Linked DNA regions of Homo sapiens: all the other regions are linked to region 1. Evidence: fine-mapped expression QTL. A gene starts in region 1. Each other region holds a variant in brackets. All regions are shown on one strand. Distances are between the middles of the regions. Region 1 holds the start of SNRK-AS1 (SNRK antisense RNA 1). Region 2 overlaps ANO10 (anoctamin 10). Region 3 overlaps SNRK (SNF related kinase).

Evidence for each region. PIP is the estimated chance that this variant, and not a neighbour inherited with it, causes the effect.
Region 2: its variant is the best candidate, but not a certain one, in a credible set for the expression of SNRK-AS1 in thyroid (GTEx, PIP 0.66).
Region 3: its variant is the best candidate, but not a certain one, in a credible set for the expression of SNRK-AS1 in whole blood (TOPMed, PIP 0.74).

The regions. Positions count from the first base shown.
Region 1 is chr3:43,349,828-43,354,074 of GRCh38, forward strand. SNRK-AS1 (SNRK antisense RNA 1) reads right to left here and starts at 2,135. Exons shown (of 3, transcript NR_046757.1): 1 at 1,771-2,135; 2 at 1,504-1,554; 3 at 1-150. It overlaps SNRK (SNF related kinase), which reads left to right. Exons shown (of 7, transcript NM_017719.5): 7 at 1-1,316.
Region 2 is chr3:43,488,277-43,492,523 of GRCh38, forward strand. All of the region lies in intron 11 of ANO10 (anoctamin 10), which reads right to left. Among named protein-coding and RNA genes, the nearest start is that of ANO10, 130 kb to the right of the region's middle. RefSeq lists an enhancer at 2,584-3,084. The variant A/G (reference allele first, on the strand shown) is at 2,251.
Region 3 is chr3:43,317,525-43,321,771 of GRCh38, forward strand. The region is part of intron 3 of SNRK (SNF related kinase); the gene reads left to right. Among named protein-coding and RNA genes, the nearest start is that of SNRK-AS1, 32 kb to the right of the region's middle. The variant A/G (reference allele first, on the strand shown) is at 1,892.

The sequences.
Region 1 (4,247 bases):
CAGTTGCTGTTTTTTCATGCAGTGCCCTGGGAGTCTTAAAAGCAGTGCTTAGCAACATTGGTGATAGCATGTGGCTGGGACCCAGGGCCCTTCCCCACTCTTCAGCCCCGAGTCATGTGTCTGAGGTGACGGACTGAGACGCATCTGGTCCTGTAATTCAGAGAGTGGGCACATCACCAAAGAACTGCATTGCTGTGGTCACTGTTTCTTCAAGTACACACTGACTCTGCTACTTTAGGATAAATATATTTTACTCAGAACTCTGAATTTCACAGTATACTTACTAAACTAAGTAAAAATGATACTTAAAATACTTATTTTACTTTCTAGACCTAGGCTAGATGTTTTAAGCTACAGCTCTAGTTCATTGTGATATTTATAATTTGAAAGCTATGAGAATAGATGTGTGGGTGAAGCCATAGAACATATTTGCTTGAAATTCTTGAGCAGGGATCTTATAAAGGGCCAGAAATAAGATGTGTGGTTCACATAGATAGTGAGCGTAACATCTGTATTAAACATAGGAGAGAAGTTTATAAAGGGCATTGGCAATAAACTCTTTGTTGCAGCTGTTTTCCAAGCAGTGTAAATACTTTTTCCTGTGATTATGTATAGCCTTGGAATGGCACCTTTTAACTAACCCATATGTGTTTGGTTTCAATGGTTTTTTATATTCAGATGTATATATGGTGCTCACTTTAGGATCAGCAGTGTTGACCATTTATGCTGCATAGCTGTATTATAGCCTTATTAGTTGTGTGGTTGACCCTTGGGGTATACAAATGTCAGTCTGAGTGGTGTCTTACTCCTTTGTTTATAAGTGAATGATTGTGCATGTTTTGTATGTCATAGTATGTCGTCACATAAAAGGGAGGGAGCGAAAAACCATTACATTAAGATAATATTGGACCAAACTACTTACTTGCTCTAAACAGTTACTTGTACCCCTTAACCTGTCTTCAAAAGTTGCATATAGTTACAGTAGTGTATAAATTAAATATTGTGGAAAAACAGTCTTGTATTTTTCTGTATGTGTGTATATATATATAATTATGTACTTCTGGCAATTCTATCTGTATTTAAAGATGTGACAATCTTGACACCAATTTTAAGAATAGCTGTGAGACCGAATTAAAGATAATCCCTACCAAGTGAAAATTGATGTGTGTTAAGAGGGTACAGAATTATCAACTGATTTGGTCAGTTGCTTCCAATGCTGGTTGATTTCCCTCATTGTGTAAACATTGACAGGTATGTGACAAATGGGAAAAAAAATCCAAATAATAAAGTGACATATTGGTGTTCAGCAATATAAACCGTGTCCTGTGTTGTATTGCTTCTCATGAGTGTAGCTTTGTGTGATCCCACCTCAGTTAGACCCAGCCTTCTCCATGCCCTGTGCCTGCACCACCAGATTTGGCTGAAAAAGTACAGTCATTATTATGTTTAAACTCATGGCTACAAATCATAGGTGGGGCCAGGGTGCCCATTAAGTATACTTACTTTATTTCTCTATTTCATCTCCTTTCCTCACTCTGCTGGTCACCATGCTGCCTAATTGAATAAAGGGAAGCAATGAGAACTGCCACAAGTTCCCACCTCTGCCTTCCTCCCTTCCTTCATACACATTCACATGCTCTGCCCTTCCTCCTGTTACTGTGATTCCAAGGTCAGCTACTCTTACTCAGTTCTCACAACCATTACCATAATTGACTTTTACAACCCCCCCCCGCCCGCCAAAGAAATCTTGTGCCCTTTGGCATACTTTACCTTGTCCGCAACTCCCTTTACTCCAGCCTCATGCAACCACTTCCTGTGATCAATTTTCAATCCCATGTTAGAATTTGATGAATTGCTCACTTTCTTCCTTATGAACTTCCCATCTTTCAGTATCTCACTTCTGCCTTGCTGCTCTTCATGTCCACTGGTCCTTCCTCATTCTTCCAACCTCTAAATTTGGAATGTCCCAATGTTCAATTCTGGACCCCTGCTCTATCTGCAGTGACTCCTGATCTCAGTTAGTCTAGTATCTATATGCTGATAGAAGCCCAAAATATATTTAGCCCACATACCCTGGGAACACTGGATTTCAACTATCTATTTGACTTTTCTTCTTGGATGTGTCTGTGTGTCTACAGCATCTCAATTTTTACAAGTTCAAAACCCCTAATCTTTCCCCTCAAATCCTTTTACTAGCGCACCCATCTTAATAAATATCAACTCCTAGCCTTCAATAGTTTCATTCAAGCTGAAAATCTTGGTGTCATCCACTTTTTCATCCCAACATTCAGTTTATGAGCAAATCTTAACTTGCCTTTCACAGTTGACTCCTTCTCATTGCCACCACCACTACCACTCTAGTCCATGACACTCAACTGTAAATGCCTCTTAAAGGGTTTCCCTGCATTTGCCCTTGTCTTTCTCATTTATTTTCCACTTAGCAGTATGAGAGATCATTTTAAAGGCTAAATCATACCATGTTTTGAAACGTGTTTAGTTTCCAAATATTTGGGGTTTTCCCACATAGGTTTCTATAATTTTTAGTTTAATTCTATTTTTATCAGTGCATGCTTTCTATAGTTTAAATCTTTTGAAATTACTGAAACTTGTTTTATGGCCCAACATACGACCTATCTTGGTGAATGTTTCCTGAGTGCTTGGAAAGTGCTATTGGTGGAGTGTCCTATACATGTCAGTTCGTTCAAGTTGGTTGATAATGTTCAAGTTTTCTATATTCTTACTGATTTTCTGTCTCAATTATTGAGAGAGGAGTGTTGAAATCTCCAACTATAGTTGTGGATTTGTCTATTTCTCCTTTTAGTTCTAGCAGTGTTATTTTAGAAAATTTGAAGCTCTGTTGTTTGGTACATAAGCATTTAAGATTGTTACGTCATATCAATGAATTGATCCCTTTCCTCATGAAATGTTCCTTCTTTATGACTGGTAAACTATTTGTTCTGAAATCTACTTTGTGTGATAGTGATACAGTAACTCCAGCTTTTTTTTGACTTGTGAGAATATATCTTTTTCCATTCTTTACTGTTAACCTATTGTGTCTTTATGTTTAAAGTTTGTTTTTTGCAGATATCATATAGTTCGAGCTTGCTTTCTTATCCCATCAGCAAATGTCTGTCTTTGATTGAGGGTTTAGATGTATTACATTTAGTGTAATTGTCAATATGGTTGAGTTTAAACCTACCTAGTTTTCTATTTGTCTCGTCTGTTCTTTTTCCCTCTTTTGCTACCTTGTTTTGGTTTAACTGAGCACCTTTTGTTACTCCATTTTATCTCCGCTATTGGCTTATTGGCTGTAACTCTTGTTTTTCAGGGGGTGCTATAAGATTTGCAATACATGTATTTTATTATATCACAGTCTATCTTAATATATCACTTCATGTAGAATATAAAAACCTTACAACTGTATGCCTCTATTTTCCTCTTCCTGTTCCTTATACTACTGTTGTCATACATTTTATTTTTGTATATGTATAAATATTGTTTTAACTAGTTTTTAAGGGATTAAACAGGGGGGGGGGGAGTATTTTAGCTACATATTTGTCATTTGCAGCACTCTTCATTTCTTTGTGTAGATCCACAGTTTGGTTTTCCTTCTGCCTGTAGAACATTCTTTAACATTTCATATAATGCAGATCTGCTGGCATTACATTCTGTCAGCTTTTGTTTTGAAAAATTACTTTTCCTTTATGAAAGATATTATCATTGGGTATAAAAATTCTTGATTCATTTTTATTGCAATGCTGGACACTGAATTTTGCATTGTTGAATGCTGGAATTTTTTGTATTCGTGTGAGAAGTATTGGATTTCATTTTGGACTGCAGTTATTTAAAATCATTGGATCCTTCATGTCTCACTTTTAAACTGTTAGGGCAGATCCTGAGCAGTCTTCAGTCTAGGGCTAATTTGGCCCACTACTGAGGCAATACCTCTCTAGGGACTCTATTGAGGCTTTTCTACTCTGGCTGGTAGGAACATGAACTATTACCAGCCTTGGGTAAGTTCTGAGCATTGTTCAGCCTGCTGCTTTCCAGTGGTTCTTTCTCCAGCCTCAGGTAGTTTTCTCATAAGTACTGATCAGTACTCAACCAAAGACCACAGATTTTCTTTTGGAGCTTGCTCACTATCTGTGCAGCTCCCTCCTCTCTGCCCTGCACATTGATCTTGAACTTCAAACTACCTGCTCAACTCAACCAGACTATTTGGGCTTTCCCTCTCTGTGTTCTGGCAA
Region 2 (4,247 bases), 140 kb after region 1:
AAACACCAAAAGCAATGGCAACAAAAGACAAAATTGACAAATGGGATCTAATTAAACTAAAGAGCTTCTGCACAGCAAAAGAACCTACCATCAGAGTGAACAGGCAACCTACAAAATGGGAGAAAATTTTCGCAACCTACTCATCTGACAAAGGGCTAATATCCAGAATCTACAATGAACTCAAACAAATTTACAAGAAAAAAACAAACAACCCCATCAAAAAGTGGGCGAAGGACATGAACAGATACTTCTCAAAAGAAGACATTTATGCAGCCAAAAGACACATGAAAAAATGCTCATCATCACTGGCCATCAGAGAAATGCAAATCAAAACCACAATGAGATACCATCTCACACCAGTTAGAATGGCAATCATTAAAAAGTCAGGAAACAACAGGTGCTGGAGAGGATGTGGAGAAATAGGAACACTTTTACACTGTTGGTGGGACTGTAAACTAGTTCAACCATTGTGGAAGTTGGTGTGGCGATTCCTCAGGGATCTAGAACTGGAAATACCATTTGACCCAGCCATCCCATTACTGGGTATATACCCAAAGGACTATAAATCATGCTCCTATAAAGACACATGCACACATATGTTTATTGTGGCATTATTCACAATAGCAAAGACTTGGAACCAAGCCAAATGTCCAACAATGATAGACTGGATTAAGAAAATGTGGCACATATACACCATGGAATACTATGCAGCCATAAAAAATGATGAGTTCATGTCCTTTGTAGGGACATGGATGAAATTGGAAAACATCATTCTCAGTAAACTATCACAAGAACAAAAAACCAAACACCGCATATTCTCACGCATAGGTGGGAATTGAACAATGAGATCACCTGGACACAGGAAGGGGAATATCACACTCTGGGGACTGTTGTGGGGTGGGGGGAGGGGGGAGGGATAGCATTGGGAGATATACCTAATGCTAGATGAGGAGTTAGTGGGTGCAGTGCACCAGCATGGCACATGTATACATATGTAACTAACCTGCACAATGTGCACATGTACCCTAAAACTTAAAGTATAATAGTATAATAAAAAATAAAAATTAAAAAAAAATCTGTTTTTGGCCACTCTCTGAGCCTGCATTATTTTTATAACCTTAAGGTGGTATATAAGCTTCTGTACCTTACTGAGGGGTTGGATCTTCATTCTGAAAGTTCCCATGTACACGTTAAATAAATCCGCCTTTTCTCCTATTAATCTGCCTTTTGCAAGTTGATTTTTCAGTGAACCTTTAGAGGGCCAAGGGGAAAGCTCTCCCTTGGCCCTTAGGGTGACCAGTGAAGGAAGACACAAGGGGCACAAGAGGATGCAGCAAGTTTTCACAATAAGACTAGGAGATTACACAGTTAGACAGAATGAATTCGTCAATAATTTCATTTCAGGTGCTCAGAACATATAGTTCAATTAACTGGTATTGAAAGTGCATGGCAGAAAAAAATATTTCTCTTTTCTTTTCTTTGAGCTAGAAGACTAGTTTGCTACAAAACAGTCTCTTTGCCTGGTGAAAAAAACAAGGGGTAAAATTTAAAACCTGTTTTTTATCTCATGACCATTAGAGGCCCTGATTTAAGAAAAAAAAAACTATCTTACAAAAATCAACAACTATCTAAACATTTACAAATAAAAATCTCCTTTCACTGAAGAAGTATTCTGTTATAACGAATCACTGGAAAAGAATAAGCCTGTAACAGTATCCTTTGCATCAAAATAATGCCTTAAGGGTTCAGAAGTCCTTGAATATTATTTCTTCTGATCCTCACAGCAATTACATCAGGCCGTTCTCAACGTGATACATGGATGATGGAAAAACAGCCTGAAGTCAGAGAAGGCTTACGTAAAGTCACTCAGCTTATAGGAGACAGGGCTACAGCCAGGCTTTGACATTTAGCCCTGGCCTCCCTCTTTCTGATAAATCCAGTTTCCTTCCCCTTCTCAGATCTCCAACTACGCCACAACAAAAGTCTTGCATGGTGTGTGTGTTCCTCTCCTCTCTAAATATTCCCTCCTGTTGCAATAAGTTTCCAGCCTAAAAATGTGAAATTTAAAAACTTTTTATCTAAACACAAGTGAAATAAAAAGCAAAACAATGAGATAACCAAAAACCTGGCAACTTGGAAGAGGGGGAAGAAAAGTATTTTAGAGGACTCCTTTTAAAACAAGGTCATATTTTAAGATCATAATAGTGAAGATTAAAAACTCAGTAATACTCCACAGCCTTATTAATATAG[A/G]GCAGTAGGCATCATCACAGAACAGATACTTGCTATGTACTCAAACTGGTCTAGACCATAGAAAAAGATGGAAGGCTCCTCCTAATTCATTCTAAAAAGCCGGAACACACTTAATACCAAAGTATGACAAAGAAAAACAGAAACCAATTTCACTTACAAATATTGATGCAAAGATTCTAAATCAAGTACCGGCAAATAGAACCCAGAAGTGAATTTGTTACAGTAGGTAGTTAGTCAGGCATGAGGAGGGCAGAAGGGTGCTCCCAGCACCACCCCCACACACACACCTGGAATGTCAGGTGACCATCAGGTGATGGTCAGGCGGTTGCTGACTCTCTTTCTAAAATAATAATTGGCCACAGCCGGTGCCAGGGAAAGGCAGTCTCCTAATAGATAGAGAACACCTGAAACTGGTGAGCAGCAGCTTCCCGATAAGATCTCAGGAGTTGGACAAGTGGGCTCAGGCATGCATATTAAGAGGCAGAATGGCAGGGGGGCGGGGTTTAAATGGCATATGACCTTCCAGGGACATTTGACTGGTAAGGACCTCAAGTGAGCATGCGTACAACTCCAGTAAACACACTGTGCATGCTCATCTCCCAAGCACTAGTAGGCTGCTGTGCATGTGGACATCTCACCTCAAGCGAAGAATCAGAAGGAATCCAAGACCCTGGAAGTATGCCAACATACAAAACCCTAAGTCAGGCCAGACACAGTGGCCTCATGCCTGTAATCCCAGCACTTTGGGAGGCTGAGGCAGGCAGATGACTTGAGGTCAGAAGTTCGAGACCAGCCTGGCCAACATGGCGAAACCCCATCTCTACTAAAAATGCAAAAATTAGCCAGGCGTAGTGGCAGGCACCTGTAATCCCAGCTACTAAGGAGGCTGCGGCACGAGAATCGCTTGAACCAGGGAGGTGGGGGCTGCAGTGAGCCAAGATTGCGCCATTGCACTCCAGCCTGGGGGATAGAGTAAAACTCCATCTCCAAGAAAAAACAACAAACAACCCTTAAGTCAAAGGTCAAACTGCACACTCCATCTCACAAGTCACCTGCTTGGACCTCTTCCACCAAGTGTACTGTACTTCCTTTCATTCCCACTCTAAAGCTTTTTAGTAAACTTTAACTCCTGCTCTAAAACTTGCCTCGGTCTCTCCTTCTGCCTTACCCCTTGGTCAAATCCTTCTGAAGAGGCAAGAACTGAAGTTGCTGCAAACCCATATGGATTCACCACCAGTAACAAATTAACAGAAAAATATACAGAATATGATATAATATAATAATATAACATGGTTTATTTCAGGAATGCAGAGATAGCTTAAAATTAGCAACACTATCAACATAATTTATTACGTTTTTAAGTGAAAAGATAACCATAAATTAAAACATAAAGGTTGGAAGATGGCCAAATAGGAACAGCTCCGGTCTACAGCTCCCAGAGAGATCAAAGCAGAAGATGAGTGATTTCTGCATTTCCAACTGAGGTCACCAACCTCAAAGACCAAAGGTAGATAAAACCACAAAGATGGGGAGAAACCGAGCAGAAAGGCTGAAAATTCCAAAAACCAGAACACCTCAGAAAAAACCAGAGGCCTCAGAAATAACACCACACATCTACCACCATCTGATCTTTGACAAACCTGACACACACAAGCAGTGGAGAAAAGATTCCCTGTTTAATAAATGGTGTTGGGAAAACTGGCTAGCCATATGAAGAAAACTGAAACTGGACCCCTTCCTTACACCTTATACAAAAATCAACTCAAGATGGATCAAAGACTTAAACGTAAGACCTAGGACCAGAAAAATCCTAGAAGAAAACCTGTCCAATACCATTCAGGACATAGGCATGGGCAAAGACTTCATGTGTATAACACCAAAAGCAGTGGCAACAAAAGCCAAAATTGACAAATGGGATCTAATTAAACTAAAGAGCTTCTGCACAGCAAAATAAACTATCATCAGAGTCAACACGCAACCTACAGAATGGGAGAATA
Region 3 (4,247 bases), 32 kb before region 1:
TTCCATTTCAGTCTGAATCAAAACCACCATCCTCACTGTGGCCAACACAGCCCAAAAGATTGGCATCTCCATTTCTTCCCAGACTTTCCTCTCACTACCTTCCTGGTTGCTCCTTCGGCTCCAGCCACGCTGCCTCCTTGCTGTTAGGCACACTCCAAGCCCGGTCCTACCTCAGGGCCATCCATCTCCCTCCTCTGCCTAGCCACTCTTGCCCCTGATTTTCTTGCCCACATGTCACCCCTCAGTGAGGCCTCAGCTTCTTCTCCAGAGGTGTAGGGCCCCAGCACTGCCTGTTATCTTTCCCCACTTGACTTGCATCTCTGGGCTCTGTTACCTCCATTTGTGAAATGGGGTTCATAGTTCCTGCCTTTAGGATTATTGAGGGGATTAGATGAATGAATACATGTAAAGTACTTAGCATAACGCCAGACACAAAATTAGCCCTCAGTCCATCAGATGTCACTGTCTCAGTGCTGCTGCTTTGGGAAACGTCATGGGATGCTTTATGTTTCTATGGTGTTGCTGCTGTGGTCCCAGAGGGACACTTAACATTAGATCCTGGCCTTATTTTCCTTTCCTGCCTCTTTCTCAATGTGGGAGGAAGAGTATCCGAGGTACCCTTGTCCCCTTTGGAAATTTGTCCTCGGGAATTTCTGAAATGTTGGCTGCCGTGGGAAAATGGGGAGGAAGGGCAGGCCTGGGACCTTTGCTCCTGTGGTTTTCTCACATGTTTTTAGTTGTATTTAACTTTCAGAATGTTATGTTATTTGTATTTAGGGAATAGGTTAACTTCTAAAGTAGGGATTTTTCTTTCTTTTTTAAAATGTTAGATAAAAAAAAATGAAAGTCTTGGTGTTTATTTGATAGCAGGTTAGTTTCTTAGAACTTCAGAAGGGCTTTTCAAACCACTCAAAACAGTAGCTATTTTAGTACAAAAATACATATGGAAGCTGAATCAACTTACATTCACCTTAGGTCATAACATGGGAAACCTTTAGGGAGTTGAAAATATTAAATTTTCTTTTTTTTTTTTTTAAACTTTTTGAGGTAAGAAATGTATGCCTGTTGAAGAAGAAAGATAAGTTTGCAAGACAAAAAAATCAGCATTAGAGCAAACTTTCTAACACAAATTTGGAATTGTGTTATTCGCATTGCATGTTGCCGAACAGACTGAACTGTTAAAAGTTGTTTTAGCGTTTTAGAATGTACTAAAGAATCGAGTCCGGCGTGGTGGCTCATGCCTTTAATCGCAGCACTTTGGGAGGCCGAGGCAGGTGAATCACATGAAGCCAGGAGAGTTCGAGACCAGCCTGGCCAAGCAGATGAAACCCCATCTCTACTAAAAATACAAAAATTAGCCAGGCGTGGTAGCGCATGCATGTACTCCCAGCTACTCAGGAGGCTGAGGCAGGAGAATGACTTGAACCTGGGAGGTGGAGGTTGCAGTGAGCTGAGATCGTGCCACTGCACTCCAGCCTGGGCGACAAAGCGAGACTTTGTCTCAAAAAAAAAAAAAAAAAGAATCAGTTTGTTTGTTTATATGCAGGCTGCTATGCTTGATCACTCTCTTGTGCTCACTGAGATGGGCCAGGTGGGACTAGTTAGTGACCGGTCTCAGTTCCTGGAGAGTCCCTGTCCCAGCATGTTAGGAGGTTGCATGTGTGGTCATCAGGTTGATCTATTAGCCTTATATAGGGTTGTAATAAGAAAGTATTTCTAGTGTAGTGTAAACAGTGCCTAATTTAATATTTTTAAAATTTTAATTTAGAATTATTTTAAACTCTGAAACCTAAGAAAAAACATTACAAGTTCTCAGCCTTTGTAATACTGTATCTGGTAAGTCGGAAAACAAGACCTTTTAGAGTGAGACGCTCTTCGTAGATATATCGAA[A/G]TCTCGGCACCTGGAATGCAGCCAGGCACAGAGTAGGCATACTATTTTGCTGGGTGTAAAAATAAAAGAGGGGCTGTGGATGGCTAAAAAAGGAGGATGATGAAGTTAGGAGAATGCATGCCCTGATTGCTCTTTCTCTTTGGAATTGGATGGGGCGGTGCCAAGCCTGCCTCACTCCAGATGGCTCACTTGTCCCCCTTGCTCAATAGTAAGGTCCTTGAGAGAGGGGACCATGTGTTTGTTTATATTTTGTCAGTGTCCTGTCACCTGGCAAACGTAACAAGCTCATAATATTTATTTAAATTAATGTTAACAGAGATGAACCAAGGAAATGAAGATTACATTAATTGTGGTCACCCTCTGTGGCTCTTCCCAATCTCTTTGCTGATGTCGTAATTCCTTTTCCTTGCCTTGTATCTGTTATATTTAATGAGTCCTAGACTCTTAGAGGACCCAGTGAAAGCTGTGATTCCTGTTTTCAGAGAGATACAAACATGCATTTTGGGTTAGTTTCAGAGGTGTTTATTGAACACTATGAAGCCCTTTTTTGGATCTGATCTTGCAAGCTTATGAGGTTGAGAAACAAGTGGACCCGCAACTATTTGGATGAACACAAACAGTTTTGAAATAAGCTTTGGAACATAAAATACACATGTAAAATAGTGTTCTTATTTTTGTGCCTTTGAATACGTGACTCATTCATTGCTGTTTTATATACTAGATCTCCCATTTTCCCTATTGTGTTTTAAATTTCATGGATATGACTTGAGTAGGAGATTGTAATGGAAAATTGGAGGTAAGGTTATAAATGGGTCTGTTTCCAAAGGAAACATCAAGTCATTGGGTACAGTATTCTTTTTATTTCCTAAAGTCAGACAGACTTGTAGATGTTTGGTATATTTTATATGGTTTTCTTAAAAACCCATTTTGTATAACAGAGTTCGTATGCGTCAACTCTCCACTGACATTTGGAGGCCCTTGTTAGGGTTTAAGAGAAACAACATGGATTGGGAGCTCCAGTAGGTGGAAGGAAGCCCCTGAGATGGTGTGACTGATTCATCACCACGTTCCAGGTTGTGATTCTCAGCTTTGTATTCAGTAGTGATTAGTTTCTAGAGGACTGAAACTGGCTTAACAAAGTGTTTTGTATATATACTAATGAATACACTAGAACACCAATCAGTTGATTTACAATGAGACGTATTAAATGTTAGTCAACGCCAAGCTTGTATTGTATCAGAGTAGCTGGGTTTTTTTTTTCCCCAAATTTACCTATTTTCAGAGTTTTAATAAGATATTCTACCAAAAAAGCCTGTTTATTAGTGCATAATGTAAGTTGATTAGGTTTAATCATTTTTAGGAACATTTGTGATCCATTGAAACTCCTGAGGTCACACTTTTAAGATTCTTATATGAATTTTTGCTTTAGATCTAGAAAGGGCTCTTCATGACTTTGAATTTTAGCTCATGTATTCCTGTTACTCCCAAAACTTTACAAACATGATTTTTTCAAGGTTTTTTTTTTTTTTTTTTAAGTTATTATAGCAGAACCTTCATTTGGCTGAAACCCATTATGTTCCATCTGGAGGCAGAAGATTCTCTTGGTTTTAGATTAGTTCTAGTTTTGTACTCAGTTATCAGTTTGTGAGGTGAGGTACCTTGCCCTGTATCCCATTCAAGGCTGTATTATCAGTGTCAGTAAACAACTTCATAAGAATTTCTTGGGTTTACCATCTAGCTTCAGTATCAAAATGAATTTATTAATTAGTAGAGGCAAGAATAGAGAGAGAACTTGAGTGTCCCCTGACTTTGTAACCTTTGACTCTTCCAGCTGTTGTCAGGAGAACAAAGGGGACAGCTTTTCTTATGGTAAGGAGTCTTTCCAAAATTGTTTTTATGTTACTTTATGTAAGATAAACAATCTTCAGAATCCTTAGCTATCCATGAATCTTACCAATTAGAGGACTGCCTATTGATCATTTACCAGTTTTTGAGTTGTCCTAAACCCAGGAGAGCACCAGGAGGCAAGCAAATAAAGACTCCTGGTAGATGAAATGGACTGTCCTAAGTGCATGTACAAAGCTCATGTATTTTGCTCGTAGCTGTCATTCAGGGTCTCACTCAGACCCTTATTTAGTTAATTTTACGTATAATTCTAGCAAGTTCAGTAAATTCGTATTTCCAGCTGTCAGCTGATAGGTAACAGGGACCTCCTAAAGTCAAGTGCCCTGACTGATAGCAGCAAGATGAGAAAGAATCATGAAATCATCATCAAAAACTTAAAAAACACGGTGTGCGCCTCTCCTTGCCACCTGAAGTCCGAGTGTTTAACAGTGCTTATGGGCACCTCTGGAGG